2 linked regions of the Homo sapiens genome follow. The protein of the gene in region 1 interacts with the protein of each later gene in a biochemical or structural test. Each region holds a gene or a part of one and is shown in the gene's direction. Other genes may lie near its edges.

The links.
Region 2: the proteins of CHRDL2 (region 1) and INHBA form a complex in vitro, tested with the Homo sapiens proteins (one study listed by BioGRID).

Annotation. Positions count from the first base shown.
Region 1 is NC_000011.10:74,721,151-74,728,426, reverse strand, and holds part of CHRDL2 (chordin-like protein 2 isoform 2 precursor), read left to right. Parts: intron 1-7,276. UniProt on the Homo sapiens protein: May inhibit BMPs activity by blocking their interaction with their receptors. Has a negative regulator effect on the cartilage formation/regeneration from immature mesenchymal cells, by preventing or reducing the rate of matrix accumulation.
Region 2 is NC_000007.14:41,686,025-41,693,300, reverse strand, and holds part of INHBA (inhibin beta A chain preproprotein), read left to right. Parts: intron 1-2,758; coding exon 2,759-3,651; 3' UTR 3,652-7,276. UniProt on the Homo sapiens protein: Inhibins/activins are involved in regulating a number of diverse functions such as hypothalamic and pituitary hormone secretion, gonadal hormone secretion, germ cell development and maturation, erythroid differentiation, insulin secretion, nerve cell survival, embryonic axial development or bone growth, depending on their subunit composition.

The DNA of each region.
Region 1 (7,276 bases):
GACAGCCTATGAATCTAGAAAGGATCCTATAGTCATTTGCCAAGATGCTATTTGAAGGTCTCTTACAAAGGTCCTCATCTTAGTTTAAGTGAGATCTCAAGCCTGTTGTGGGTCAGAAATCTGGTGATATCTTAGGTGCTTTCAGAAACAGTGCTAACGGATGGAAATGTTCAAGTCTGTGTGGTATCAGGCTCCTGAGGTGTCGGAGCCCTGAAGAATGCCAAGGGCCTGTGAACACAGGTAACAGTTTGCTCCTCAGGCTATTCAAACAAAAAGTATTCTCTCTTTGGTTCTATTTCCAGCCATAGATTGAGCCCTAATCCCAATACAGACTAAGTTGCAATTCCAGCCACAAGCCAAGCCCTAGTCCTCCAACCTTGGCCACAGGTTGAACACCAATTCCACCCCTATACAAGACCCCTTACCCAGGCTGGGTCCCTGACCTGGTTACTGACCAGTACTGGTCCCAGCCCCAGGCTGAGCCACAGACATGTGTGATGCTGGTCACTCTAGACACTCGGCTCTTTGTGGATGAGTGTCCACCAGAGGCCTACTATCTTCTTACCTCCCTCTTCAGTGCTTTCTGCCCTACTCCTCTCAGCTCCTCTCTTTGGTTCTCTTCCCTAATTGTCCCTTGTAGGTGTCTAGTATGCTCTGCTTTCTCTTCCCTCCCTCCATCCAATCCTGCTTTCAGGAGAGTCAGTTACCAAGTAAAAACATGGGGCTGGGTGCAGTGGCTCACGCCTGTAATCTCAGCACTTTGAAAGGCCGAGGTGGATGGATTACTTGAGCCCAGGAGTTTGAGACCAGCCTGAGAAACATAGCAAGACCCTGTCTCTAGAAAAAATAAAGAAATTAGCCTGGCATGGTGGCACATATCTGTGGTCCCAGCTATTCGGCAGGCTGAGGTGGAAGGATTGCTTGAGCCCAGAAGATGGGGGCTGCAGTGAGCTGTGATTGCACCACTGCACTCCAACCTGGGTATCACAGTGAGACCCTGCTGAGAAAAAAACAATCCATGTATTTTTTTTCTTCAAGGGTTTTGTTTATTATGGGAATCGAAGCTTTCGTTCCCAGGTGATGAATTCCGGACCCTAGACGCAGGCATGGGACAGGAAGGGAGCTCCGCTGGTAGGATGTGATGTGGAGGGCAAACCTGGAATCAGAAAGTCATGGATCCAGCCCTGGCTGTGCCATCAATTCCAACTGTGACCCTGGACAGGTTGCCTTTCTCTACCTCTCAGTTTTCTCCCCTGTAAAGTGAGATGGTTGGACTCAAGTGGATGATTATTGAGGACCATTCTAGTTTTAACACTTCGTAATTCTAAGTCTCCAAAACCCAAAGGTGTGGTTGCCTTGATTCCGAGTCCACTCTGGCCTTTGGAATAGGGATGTGGGAGGGTGGTACTCCTGCCCTGCCAGGGAGGAGTGGACAGGCAGACCCTCAGACACCAGAAAAAAGTGCCTGGATGGCCTGGGGCAGTGAAGGTAGTGGGAGACCGGCCAGAGGGGACCTGCTTGTCTGTCCAGCTTAGTCGCATCCCCATCTACCTGTGCAGGTGTGCATGAGGCAGTGGGGAGCACCTAAGTGAAGGCCTGAAGTCCGGCTCCAGGCTGACTTCTCTCTGGATCTCTGACTGGGCCGTTCTGCACCTCTCCTCTCCCACCAGCAGAGGTCTCTGCCTCACTCACTGGCGCACAGGCTGCTGAGCCTGAGCCCGGCAACAGCTGCGCAGTTGCTCCAGCTGTTGCACCTGTTCCAGGACTGGCCTCTCAAGTTCCCCCAGCCGCCAACCATGGCGCCGGACTCTGGGAGAGGGACCTTGAATCCTTCATATTCTCAAAGAAAAGGACTGGCATGACAGCGGTGCCCCTGGGAGGTGTAGTACAGAGATCATTTCAGGCGTCCCCCTTCCTCTGTCCAGGACCCCATCCTCATTCTTGTACTCAGGAGTTCTTTTTTGTGTCTCGCCAGAAGCCTTCTGTTTACAAATTAAGGCCATTTCTTCTAGTCCTGCCTAGTAGGGGATGGGTGTCCCTGTAAGCATTCTCTCCACATCTGACGACTGGCATTGAAGATTGTGCTGGAGTGAATCAAGCTTAGTCAAGTCCTGATCTCTCTCTGGGACTCAATTTCCCACAAAGGAAACAGGGGACTGGATGTCTCTGAGTCCCTAGCTTTCTACGATTCTATGAATCTAAGCATATATGTCCAAGGCAGAAAAAAATGTGAACAGTCCCCACCCTGTTTCCTGCCCTTTAACAGGTAACAGAGCTGCCTTTCCTGGTTTGATAGTTCTCTCCCTAGAGGCCCTTCTATGTTCCTGTATGTCTGTCATGTGCCAGAGGGAAAAGTCAGGTTCAGAGAAATGCAGTTCCTTTCTCCGGGTTGCACAGCTCAGCCACTGAGGAGCTGAGGCTTTTCTTCTGATTTCCTTAAGAGGCCTCTCCCACCGGGTGCCAGAGCCCAGAGCAGAGCTTATGTCTCAGAGGGGAGCAAGTTTGTTTGTGTGAAGAGGGGATTATAAATAAATAGAGAAAGTATGGCTGTGTGGGTGTGAGGGAAGAGATGTAAACGTTCTACATTCCTGGGCAGCCTGGCTCACTCAGGTTTCCTGAGTTCTTGCAGCCTGGGGACAGGCCAGCCACAATTCCAGACCTCTCTCCTCTCACCCCGGCCCCTCCTGATGCCCTTTCCAAGGTCTTGACCAGCCTCCCCTCCAGCCCAGAAGCTTCTTTCTAGTTGTCTTTTCTGCTTCCTATTGGGGAAGAATTCTCAACCGCACTAACCCCTTCTAACTGACCACCATAAAAAAACCTTTTATCACAGCATGAGAGTTTCAAGCCAGACTGTGGGATGAGCTTGGAACTTGGATAGAGACAGTTTGGAAATTTTGACTTATGCGTGAAGATCATGGAATCACTCATCCCCTTAGCTACTCTGGGCTCCTGACCTTTTTGTACATGTTGTCATTTGGTTTGGCCAGTGGTTTGAGCATTCAGATGGCAGGGAGCTGGAAAGTGGGGGTTGTCAGAAGCTAATTTCTGTTAGGTGGCAAGGTAAAAGTGCTGAAAGGGAATTGGCCCTCTTCCCATATAATGAACTACTCCTTTTGTTAAAGAAAGAGGCTTCCAGGGCTGGGCGTGGTGGCTCCCGCCTGTAATCCCAGCCCTTTGGGAGGCCCTGGCGGGTGGATCACGAGGTCAAGAGATCGAGATCATCTTGGCCAACATGGTGAAACCCCATCTCTACTAAAAATACAAAAATTAGCTGGGCGTGGTGGCACTCACCTGTAGTCCCAGCTACTCGGAGGCTGAGGCAGGAGAATCGCTTGAACCTGGGAGGCGGAGGTTGCAGTGAGCAGAGATTGCGCCACTGCACCACAGCCTGGTGACAGAGCAAGATTCCATCTCAAAAAAAAAAAAAGAATGAAAGAAGCTTCCAGGACTAAGGACCGTCAATTGGCTCCTCTTCCAGAATCTCTCCCTCTTTGTTAACTCTGTTCTTTCATCATTGATTTCGTTCATCAGGCACGAACTCTATGTAGGCTCTACCTTGAGCACAAAATTTAATGAGATCTGGTCCTTGCTCTCAAGAAGGTCCCAGTTTGGTTAGGAAGCAAAGCTTACTTAAGAAGTACCTCTAATCCATTTGTGATGAGAATTGTAATGAGGGCTGAACTCAGTTCTGCAGGAAAGGCCAGTGGCTGGAAGTTTGGGGCAGCTTCACAGAAAGGGTAGCATCTAAGCTGGCTTTTGAAGAATGGGAAGGAGTTGGTCAAACATTGGAGATGGAGGATTCCATTCCAGGTGGAGGAAACAGCATGTTTGAAGGCACAGTAGGAGGAGGCCTGGGGGCTGGTGGAAGAGTGAGGAATTTAGCAAGAGGAGGTGAGGCTGAAAACAGGGCCACCACAAAAAGTTTTGCTGGAAAAGCAGGCAGGAGCCACCTCATGATAGGCTGGGGATGACACAGTGACATTTGGAATCTGTCTGGTAAACATTGCTGTCCTGAAATCAGATTAGATCAACTAAGTCCAGTCACTTTAAGTCTGTTCAGACAGGTAAAGAGATTTGGCTGTGGCCCATCCAAGTGGACACTTCCTGTGGGAAAGGGAGCTAGTGTCTAGCACTTTGGATATGCCAAAGAGAAGCCTCTGTGTCCTTCATGAACCACATCCACTCCCACCTCTGTGCCTTTGCATCTAGCACCCACTGCCTGAGAAGTCCTTCCCCTTCTGCATCTTGTTAATTTCTCCAAGATCCAGCTCAGGCATGTTCCTAGAGAAGCCTCGCCTGAAGACCCTATGCTCACGCCATCATAGCGTTTGTCAGACTGAATGTATTGTATCTATCTGTGTTCTTCACTAGGCTGTGAGCTCCTTCAGGAGGTGACTTTGTTTTAAGTCATGTACCAGGCCCATGAATGTGTATAATATTTGACATACAAAAAGTTCAATAAATAAATGAATAATGGGAAGTAATATTACTGTAGCAGTCCCCCAGTATTCATGGTTTCAATTTCTGAGGTCTCAGTTTCCTGTGATTAACCTTGGTCCAAAATGTTAAATTGGAAATTCCAGAAATAAAGAATTCATACGTTTTAAATTGCACATCATTCTGAGTGGCATGGTGAATTCTGTTGCCATCCCTCTCTGTCCCATCCAGAATGTAAATCACCCCTTTGTCCAGTGTGCCCACGCTGTAGATGCTCCCCGCCCGTTAATCACTTGGTAGCTGTCTCAGTGATCAGATCAACTGTTGCAGTATTGCAAGGCTTGTGTTCAAGGAACCCTTATTTTACTTCATAATGGCACCAAAGCACGAGTAGCAGTGCCAGCAATTTGGATATGCCAAAGAGAAGCCATAAAGTGCTTTCTTTAAGTAAAAAGGTAAAAGTTCTCAATTAATAAGGAAAGGAAAAAAATGGTATAGTGAGTTTGCTAAGATCTACAGTAAGGATGAATCTTCTATTTGTGAAATTGTAAAGAAGGCAAAAGAAATCTATGCATGGTCTATGTAGGGTTCAGTACAAACTGTGGTTTCAGGCATCCACTGGGGGTCTTGGAATGTATCACCCAAGGATGAGGGGGGACTACTGTATTACTAATGATAATAATGTTTACTGCCTGTTATGCCAAGTGCCGCACACTCACGTATGTGTTCAGTCCCGAAACCTCAATCCTGACCTTGATGGCTCCTTTGCCTTCTCCACCCATATCCTATCCAGTCTGTCCCAAAGCCTGCCCATTGTACCTCCTAAGTGTTTCTCAAATCTGTACTTTTGCCCATCAGCACAGCTTCCATCTTGGTCCAGGTCCAGCATGATCTCAAAACAGGATGACTGCAACAGCCCCTCCCTGGTCTCCCTGCCTCCAGTCTTGCCCTCCAATCAGTTCTCCATTCCTGTGAGCACAGTGATGATTCTAAAATGCAAATCTGATCATGGAACTCCCCAGTTTAAAGCTTTTCCATGGCTTTCCTTTGCCTCTCAGGCTCTCAAAGACCTCCGTGAGCCTCTGCTTCTCCTTCCAGACTGGTCTCTTGCCTCTCACTCCTGCCTTCCCATTCTCTCCTCCAACTTCTGAGCCACTTTCATCTCTGTATCCCCGCCCAAGGTCTGTGGGCCTGAGGTGAGTTGAGGCAAACTAATCTGATTTATGAGTGGGGCTAGAAGAATGCAGGAGGCCACCAGAATCATGATTGGTGCAGTAGTAAATGAGACCTGGGAGATTTGGCCTCAGTGTGTGCTATGATGTTCATCCCCTAATAGGTGCCTGGGGATGACCACAGAGAGCTCTGGGAGTCAAAGAAACACCACAGGAAACAAACTATTAAGGAAGTCTGGGGTCAGTGCCCAGATCTGTTTTTTTTTAAACCTATTTAGTTGAGCATATAATATATGTCAGGCACTAGGCATATTACATATATTATCTGACCTAATTCTACAGTAACTCTGAGAGGTAAAGATTGTTATTAGTTCCATTTAATAGATGTGGAAACAGAGGCCCAGAATGGTTAGGTAACTTGTCTAAATTCAGGCTGCAAATAAAAGCCAAATCCACAATTTGAACCCCAGCCGATCTGACTCCAAAGGGTCCCTGAGAAAAGTCATGCTTGGTCTCTGAGATGGGGAGGGATGCATGGGCACAGGTGGGATGAGACTTGGTGGTGGGGTGGGAGAGGAATCAGGGCAGGTCCAAGGCCAGGGCAGAGGTGGGAACGCCACAGAGGACCAAAGGGAGTGTATGGGAAGGGAGTGAGGTATGAGACAAACTCTACCTCCTTCACACTCAGGTGACACACCTGTGTCACTCAGGACTGGTCCTACTGGCTCCCTGAACTTCATCCTAACCCACTTTGGAGCCTCTGAGAGCCTAAGATGTATGAGACCATCAACACATCCAAGAATCATAGAATCTTGGAATGATCGAATCTTAGAACCACAACATTGGACAATTCTAGAAGCTTTGTGTTCTAAGGAAAGACAGGTTCTTAGAAACATGGAATTCTCAAAATCCTGAACCTTAGAATCCTAGAATTTTGGAGTCTTCAAATGTTGAAATCATGGATTCATAAAGTATCTATGCAGAAAATCTTTGAAGATCATAGCTTACCCCCTCCCCTTATTTTGCAGATGGGAAACTGAGGCTCAGAGAAAGGAGGATGAGTCTCTGAATGTCACACAGTGAACTTGTGGCTTAAAGAACTAAAACTGTTTTCACCAGCCATGTTCAAGGGTTGGGGCTAGTGCCAGCACTGCAGGAACTGAGGCGGCCTGTCGCCGTCTGGCAGTTCTTCCTCCTGCTTGGTTCTGGCATGGCCTTGGGCACTCATCTCACTTGAGGAAGAGAGAGCTCCAGGCCATGCCACCCTTCCTTGTGCCTGTCACCTTCTAGGGTATGGTGGGGTGGGGATTGTGGCCACTGGAGGCCTCCTGCCAGGCCCCCCACATTCTCAGCCTCTGCCAGGTCTGTTGGTGGGGGGAAGGGGCCTCCTGCCTGGGCATTGGCTGAGACACTCTTTCTGTCTTCATGCTCTGAGCAGGCGGTGAGGTGAAGGGGGTGCCAACTGGCACAGAGACCTGGGCTACAGGGCTGCCCCAAGGAAGGGAGGACAGGGCTTCTTCAGCAACAGGCTGAGACCTAAGGTGGTGGCAGTGTTGCAATCACCCCCTCCCTGGTGGGAGGAGGGGACTGAGGAAGAAAGACATTATTCACTCCTTGGAGAGTTGGGCTGGCTCTGACCAGCACCCCAGCTGGGCCCGTGTCCCACC
Region 2 (7,276 bases), on another chromosome or scaffold:
GTGGATGAGAGTAGAGCAGAGCTCATGGGGATGAGTTACCCCAAACCTATTAAGCCTCCCTATCCGGGGCACTAGTCAGACACTCCAGTTTTACACTCTTTCCTAGAAAAACAAAACCCAACCTTGTGCCCTCTGGGTTCTCTAATTTAGCAGCTACTATCTGTCTGTTTTTGGAGTGACACCCTGTGCAGTTTAGGATTTCAGAAGCTGTCCTGCATAGAGGCAGAAGGGAAAACAGCAGGTATCTTGTTAACATTCTCTATGGGGCAAGGCAGATGTGCCCAAGCTGGAGGAAACCTGCACACCCTCCAGGCTAGTTATCCAAGGCTTGGGAGGTTTCCCTCGGCCTTCTCCTAAGGCCTTGGCAGGACCCTGCCACCCTAAAATCAACTGCTGATTGCCTTTTTAGATTTAAATGATTAAGCTCTGCTTATGGGAATCTTCTTCTCTTTTATTTTGTTAAGAAACAAACAACAACAACAAAACCCACACCAATTCTTAGCAAAGGGGAATATCGAATTCAGATTTTGAAAAAATAAGTCATCATGCTTCCTAAAATAAGACAGCTTCTCCCTCTAACTGCTCTCTCTGCTCTGGTATTCTATCTAATCATAAACCCAGCTTTATTATTCATTTCAACTCCTGCCAAAGACATGAGGTCGGAGTCAGAGGAACTCCCCTTACCACCGCCACCATCATCATGGCCAGCATCCTCGTAAGTTTATAGAAAGATGCCAGAGAACCTTTCCTATCCATCTGCAGCCCTGCTTGGCCCTTGCCTCAGTGAATTTACCACTATCATAATCACAGTGTGCAGAGTGTGTTAAATTAAGAACAGAATCCACAGTACGCAATGCACAGAAAAGCCTGCCTTCTGCTGCAGAGAACTTGAAACTGTGCCTAAAATTTATAGTACCGTAAACATCTCAGGGCCTCGAGTGATAAGTATGGCTGGATTTCCGTTAACTATAGAAATCCAGGCAGGGAGATCCTCCCAGGGAGTTGCAAGTTCTAAGATGAACTTCTTGAAGATTGTTCCCAGATTTGTGCATGGGATACATGTACAGCAGACAGTTGTAAGGAGGTCCACGGTCATGGAAAAGAGGATATGTTTCTATATGCCACCAAGTGGGAAAAATGGAAGTGAGGGAAAATATTTGATTAATCAAAAAATTTTAGTTTGGATACCTGCTTTCATAGTAATTGTTGCTGTGTCATTAAACATACAGTTGCTTAGGAAAAGAGAAGGAAATAGGTGACTTTCTAATTTTAGAGTTAGGCTGGAACTGAGTGGTTGCTAAATTCAACTGCCCTGACAATGTGGGGATTTCCTGTCCATTAGCAGCGATTGCTATTTGACATATGTTTCTGGTGCCCATTAATCTGCCCTGTAATGGGTCAGAGGCAAAAATGGGGGATTCAGAGGTACTAGGTGGCTCTCTTAATTTAATAGAACTCAATGCTAAGGACGCCTCTATTTGTTAATAAGTAATCAAGTCATTGGCTACTTTCTGCTAAACACTAGACTATGATAGTGACCTTAGACCCCGGGCATTCTAAACCAGGCTGGCAGGAGGGTGGTGGTGGAGGTGATGTGAGGTAAGCCTCCTAGAGGAACTGTCATCCAAACAATCTGAAAATTGAAACATTATTAAAGGCAGCACTAAGGGTGGTATGTTGGAGTTGGGGCAGGAGCACTTAAGGCAGAAGGAACAGCAGGTGTCACTGCCTGCAGTTGAGAAAGGGGGTGGAATTCTCAAGGCCTTAGACCCCAGAGAACAGGACTGGGCAAGAGCTGACATTCAAGGGAGGAACAGCATGTACAGAGCCCAAAGTCCCAGCCACTTTCTGTTGGATACTGAGCAATAGGAATTCAGTAAAGGACTTTCAAGAAGAAGTGATGTGATCAGATCCACCTGTGGGAAAGATGCCTTTAGCTGCTTCATGGAGAAATGACTGGAGAGGAGGCCTTCCTTAGTGTTGCAGAGGCAAAGTAAAGAAAATGCTGCTGCAGTGACCCAGCAAAGAGGTGATGGCGGAGGAATCAGGCTGTGACAAGGGAAGAAGAGGCTGGCTCAAGTGTGTCTCGACTGCACAGACTTACACAGCGAGGTGGGGCCAGGGGCTGCATTTTTGTCTGAGAATAGTATTTCCTTAGCTTTCTAGAGCTTACAGTGTCTTTTTGTTTATGTTATCTCATTTGACCTTCCTAAACCTGTGAGATAACAGGTCAAATGTCCTTATGTCATTCCCATTTTTATAGAAGATGAAACTGAGGTTGAGCAATTAGTCAACAGACACAGACTCGCAGGCCCTCTTCATTCTAAAGCAAGGGTCCAAAACCTTTTTTCTATAAAGGGCCAGAGAGTAAATAATTTAGGCTTTGTGAGCCAGGCAGTCTGTTGCAGCTACGCAGTCCTTGGTTATTATAGTGCAAAAACAGCCATAGGCAGCATGTACAGAAATGAGCATAACCATGCTCCAACAAAACTTTATTTACAGGCACTAATGTTTAAATTTCAGGTAATTTTCACATGTCACAAAATATCACTTTTCTTTAACCACTTAAAAGTATAAAAGCCATTCTTAGTTTGCAGGCAGTACAGAAACAGTTTCAGCCCATGGGCTGTCATTTGTTGACCCCTATTCAAGAGGGTCTGTCACAGAAGACTCCTGCTTGCCTGAAATTTACGAGTGCATGTAAATGTTGGAATTAACAGGTGTGCCTGTTTTCTCTTATGCTGTCTTTCATCTTCAGGAACAGCCAGGAAGACGCTGCACTTCGAGATTTCCAAGGAAGGCAGTGACCTGTCAGTGGTGGAGCGTGCAGAAGTCTGGCTCTTCCTAAAAGTCCCCAAGGCCAACAGGACCAGGACCAAAGTCACCATCCGCCTCTTCCAGCAGCAGAAGCACCCGCAGGGCAGCTTGGACACAGGGGAAGAGGCCGAGGAAGTGGGCTTAAAGGGGGAGAGGAGTGAACTGTTGCTCTCTGAAAAAGTAGTAGACGCTCGGAAGAGCACCTGGCATGTCTTCCCTGTCTCCAGCAGCATCCAGCGGTTGCTGGACCAGGGCAAGAGCTCCCTGGACGTTCGGATTGCCTGTGAGCAGTGCCAGGAGAGTGGCGCCAGCTTGGTTCTCCTGGGCAAGAAGAAGAAGAAAGAAGAGGAGGGGGAAGGGAAAAAGAAGGGCGGAGGTGAAGGTGGGGCAGGAGCAGATGAGGAAAAGGAGCAGTCGCACAGACCTTTCCTCATGCTGCAGGCCCGGCAGTCTGAAGACCACCCTCATCGCCGGCGTCGGCGGGGCTTGGAGTGTGATGGCAAGGTCAACATCTGCTGTAAGAAACAGTTCTTTGTCAGTTTCAAGGACATCGGCTGGAATGACTGGATCATTGCTCCCTCTGGCTATCATGCCAACTACTGCGAGGGTGAGTGCCCGAGCCATATAGCAGGCACGTCCGGGTCCTCACTGTCCTTCCACTCAACAGTCATCAACCACTACCGCATGCGGGGCCATAGCCCCTTTGCCAACCTCAAATCGTGCTGTGTGCCCACCAAGCTGAGACCCATGTCCATGTTGTACTATGATGATGGTCAAAACATCATCAAAAAGGACATTCAGAACATGATCGTGGAGGAGTGTGGGTGCTCATAGAGTTGCCCAGCCCAGGGGGAAAGGGAGCAAGAGTTGTCCAGAGAAGACAGTGGCAAAATGAAGAAATTTTTAAGGTTTCTGAGTTAACCAGAAAAATAGAAATTAAAAACAAAACAAAAAAAAAAACAAAAAAAAACAAAAGTAAATTAAAAACAAAACCTGATGAAACAGATGAAGGAAGATGTGGAAAAAATCCTTAGCCAGGGCTCAGAGATGAAGCAGTGAAAGAGACAGGAATTGGGAGGGAAAGGGAGAATGGTGTACCCTTTATTTCTTCTGAAATCACACTGATGACATCAGTTGTTTAAACGGGGTATTGTCCTTTCCCCCCTTGAGGTTCCCTTGTGAGCCTTGAATCAACCAATCTAGTCTGCAGTAGTGTGGACTAGAACAACCCAAATAGCATCTAGAAAGCCATGAGTTTGAAAGGGCCCATCACAGGCACTTTCCTACCCAATTACCCAGGTCATAAGGTATGTCTGTGTGACACTTATCTCTGTGTATATCAGCATACACACACACACACACACACACACACACACACACAGGCATTTCCACACATTACATATATACACATACTGGTAAAAGAACAATCGTGTGCAGGTGGTCACACTTCCTTTTTCTGTACCACTTTTGCAACAAAACAAAACAAACAACATTAAAAAATTGAGAACAAGTATGGAAAGAATGAAAGATCAAGGAAAAAAGAATACCAAGTTACATTTCGTTAAGGTGCTTATGATCTTAGAACTATGCAACCTAATAGGTTTGAAACTGTTTACCTGAGAGAGAACAAAAAGAGAGACTTTTTTGTATTGGAAGTAATCTGATTAATTTTTATTTTCTTCAAGGAGAGATACTTGAAAGGAATATGTTTGTCCATCTGTTGGATCCAAACATTTCTATATTTTGTAAATGTTGTTGTTGTTTTTTTTTTAATCGTTTACTATTTGCACTACAATGGTGTTTGACCTGTCTAATCCTTATTTAACAAGTATTTTCTTTGGTTGGGGGTGGGGGTGGGGTTTAAGAGCTGCACTTAATGTGAGCTATAAAAGAACTGCTACAGCACACAAAATAGCTATTTTTATTATTATAATTATAATTATTATTATTATTTTGTACCTTAAAAAATAGACACATACACCAAAGACATTTGTGTGAGCCTTTAAACAGTCTGTCTGTGGTTGGTATCATTCACCATCAATGAGTCAGGGGTTGGGATTCAAGGTTGAGTAGTGTGGATTGTGTTCAGGCTTAAAAGACCTGAGAAGTTTGGTTTTTGACTCCTTTTACATCCATGAAACAGGACATTTCATACTGGATGTACAGTAGTTGTACACTGTTGGATATCAAGTTCAATCAAATTCATGGAACTACATGCTTGTATGTGTATATATACATTGCTTGTGCATATGCATATCTGTATGTATATATACATGTATTGTACCATGTCCATACACATTTTAAGCACTTCAGGCTGTCATTTTTTAATGTTCTTAAAGCAATGAATGTTTGTGTGCAAAACACAGTATTTTTAAGAAGGATAGGCTATAGTTTTTGCTTTTACTCTGAACTAGGTGGGCGCATTTCAAAAATTCGGATGGGAAAAAGCCTGGAAATTCCAGTGAATATTCAGCAAGGCCCTCTTTCATTGTACAGGGATCAAATTTCCTCCTCTTTTTTGTGCCCCCTCCCACTTCTACAAGTTATCCCCTGTGGGGAAAACAGGATGATAATCAAAACTCTGGGCTGATGTTTTTCCAACTTAGTGTCTATTGGAATCAATCTTAAATCAGAAGCTTTTTCAGAAAAATAATATTTAGGCCAGAATTAGAGTTGAGTGTATTTTTTAAAAATGATTAAGGCTTGGTTGTGAGAAATATTACCTGTACCAGCTGGGAAAAATAATGTCATCACTAACTAAAAGATAATTAATTTGAGAGAAAGTGTTAAGAGAGGGAGAGTAAGGAAGAGAACAGTTAAGAGGAGGCAGAGGTGAGGGCAGTAGTAAAAATCTCTAAAATTTTAATTTACAGCCAAAATTCTTCATGTGTAAATTTGTATTGATTCAGATGCAGAAATGAAAAAAAAACACCTTTGTTTTATAAATATCAAAGTACATGCTTAAAGCCAAGTTTTTATCTAGTTTATTCTAGTACTTAGCTTGCCTGGAATAGCTAATAAATTATTCATGTATGTGCTTTTGAAAATCCAGAGCCCTATTTTTACACACTTGTGTGAAGTTGGCAAACATTTTGAAAAATGGAAAAAAGTTTCTAATAATTGGGAACAATTACATTAATTAATATTTTGTAAAATATTGAAGCTTTTAGCCCTATGTCAATTTGTAGATTAAAATAAATTAATTATAGGAAAGGAAGATAACAGTGAGAAACCAAACATTACAAAAGGTGGTTTAGCTCTCCTTGAAAAATATACTAAGTTGGTATACTATAACACTTGGCTATATGTAGGCAATGTCACTACTGGGCAAATACACTTACTGTGTTCTAGAGGCAGCCCTTTCTTATGCAGAAAATACAATACGCACTGCATGAGAAGCTTGAGAGTGGATTCTAATCCAGGTCTGTCGACCTTGGATATCATGCATGTGGGAAGGTGGGTGTGGTGAGAAAAGTTTTAAGGCAAGAGTAGATGGCCATGTTCAACTTTACAAAATTTCTTGGAAAACTGGCAGTATTTTGAACTGCATCTTCTTTGGTACCGGAACCTGCAGAAACAGTGTGAGAAATTAAGTCCTGGTTCACTGCGCAGTAGCAAAGATGGTCAAGGCCATGGAAAAAGCAGAAATTTACCAAGAAAGCTGATACCCATGTATAGTTCCCACTCATCTCAAATACATCTGCTATCTTTTTAAGCTAAGTCCTAGACATATCGGGGATAACATGGGGGTTGATTAGTGACCACAGTTATCAGAAGCAGAGAAATGTAATTCCATATTTTATTTGAAACTTATTCCATATTTTAATTGGATATTGAGTGATTGGGTTATCAAACACCCACAAACTTTAATTTTGTTAAATTTATATGGCTTTGAAATAGAAGTATAAGTTGCTACCATTTTTTGATAACATTGAAAGATAGTATTTTACCATCTTTAATCATCTTGGAAAATACAAGTCCTGTGAACAACCACTCTTTCACCTAGCAGCATGAGGCCAAAAGTAAAGGCTTTAAATTATAACATATGGGATTCTTAGTAGTATGTTTTTTTCTTGAAACTCAGTGGCTCTATCTAACCTTACTATCTCCTCACTCTTTCTCTAAGACTAAACTCTAGGCTCTTAAAAATCTGCCCACACCAATCTTAGAAGCTCTGAAAAGAATTTGTCTTTAAATATCTTTTAATAGTAACATGTATTTTATGGACCAAATTGACATTTTCGACTATTTTTTCCAAAAAAGTCAGGTGAATTTCAGCACACTGAGTTGGGAATTTCTTATCCCAGAAGACCAACCAATTTCATATTTATTTAAGATTGATTCCATACTCCGTTTTCAAGGAGAATCCCTGCAGTCTCCTTAAAGGTAGAACAAATACTTTCTATTTTTTTTTCACCATTGTGGGATTGGACTTTAAGAGGTGACTCTAAAAAAACAG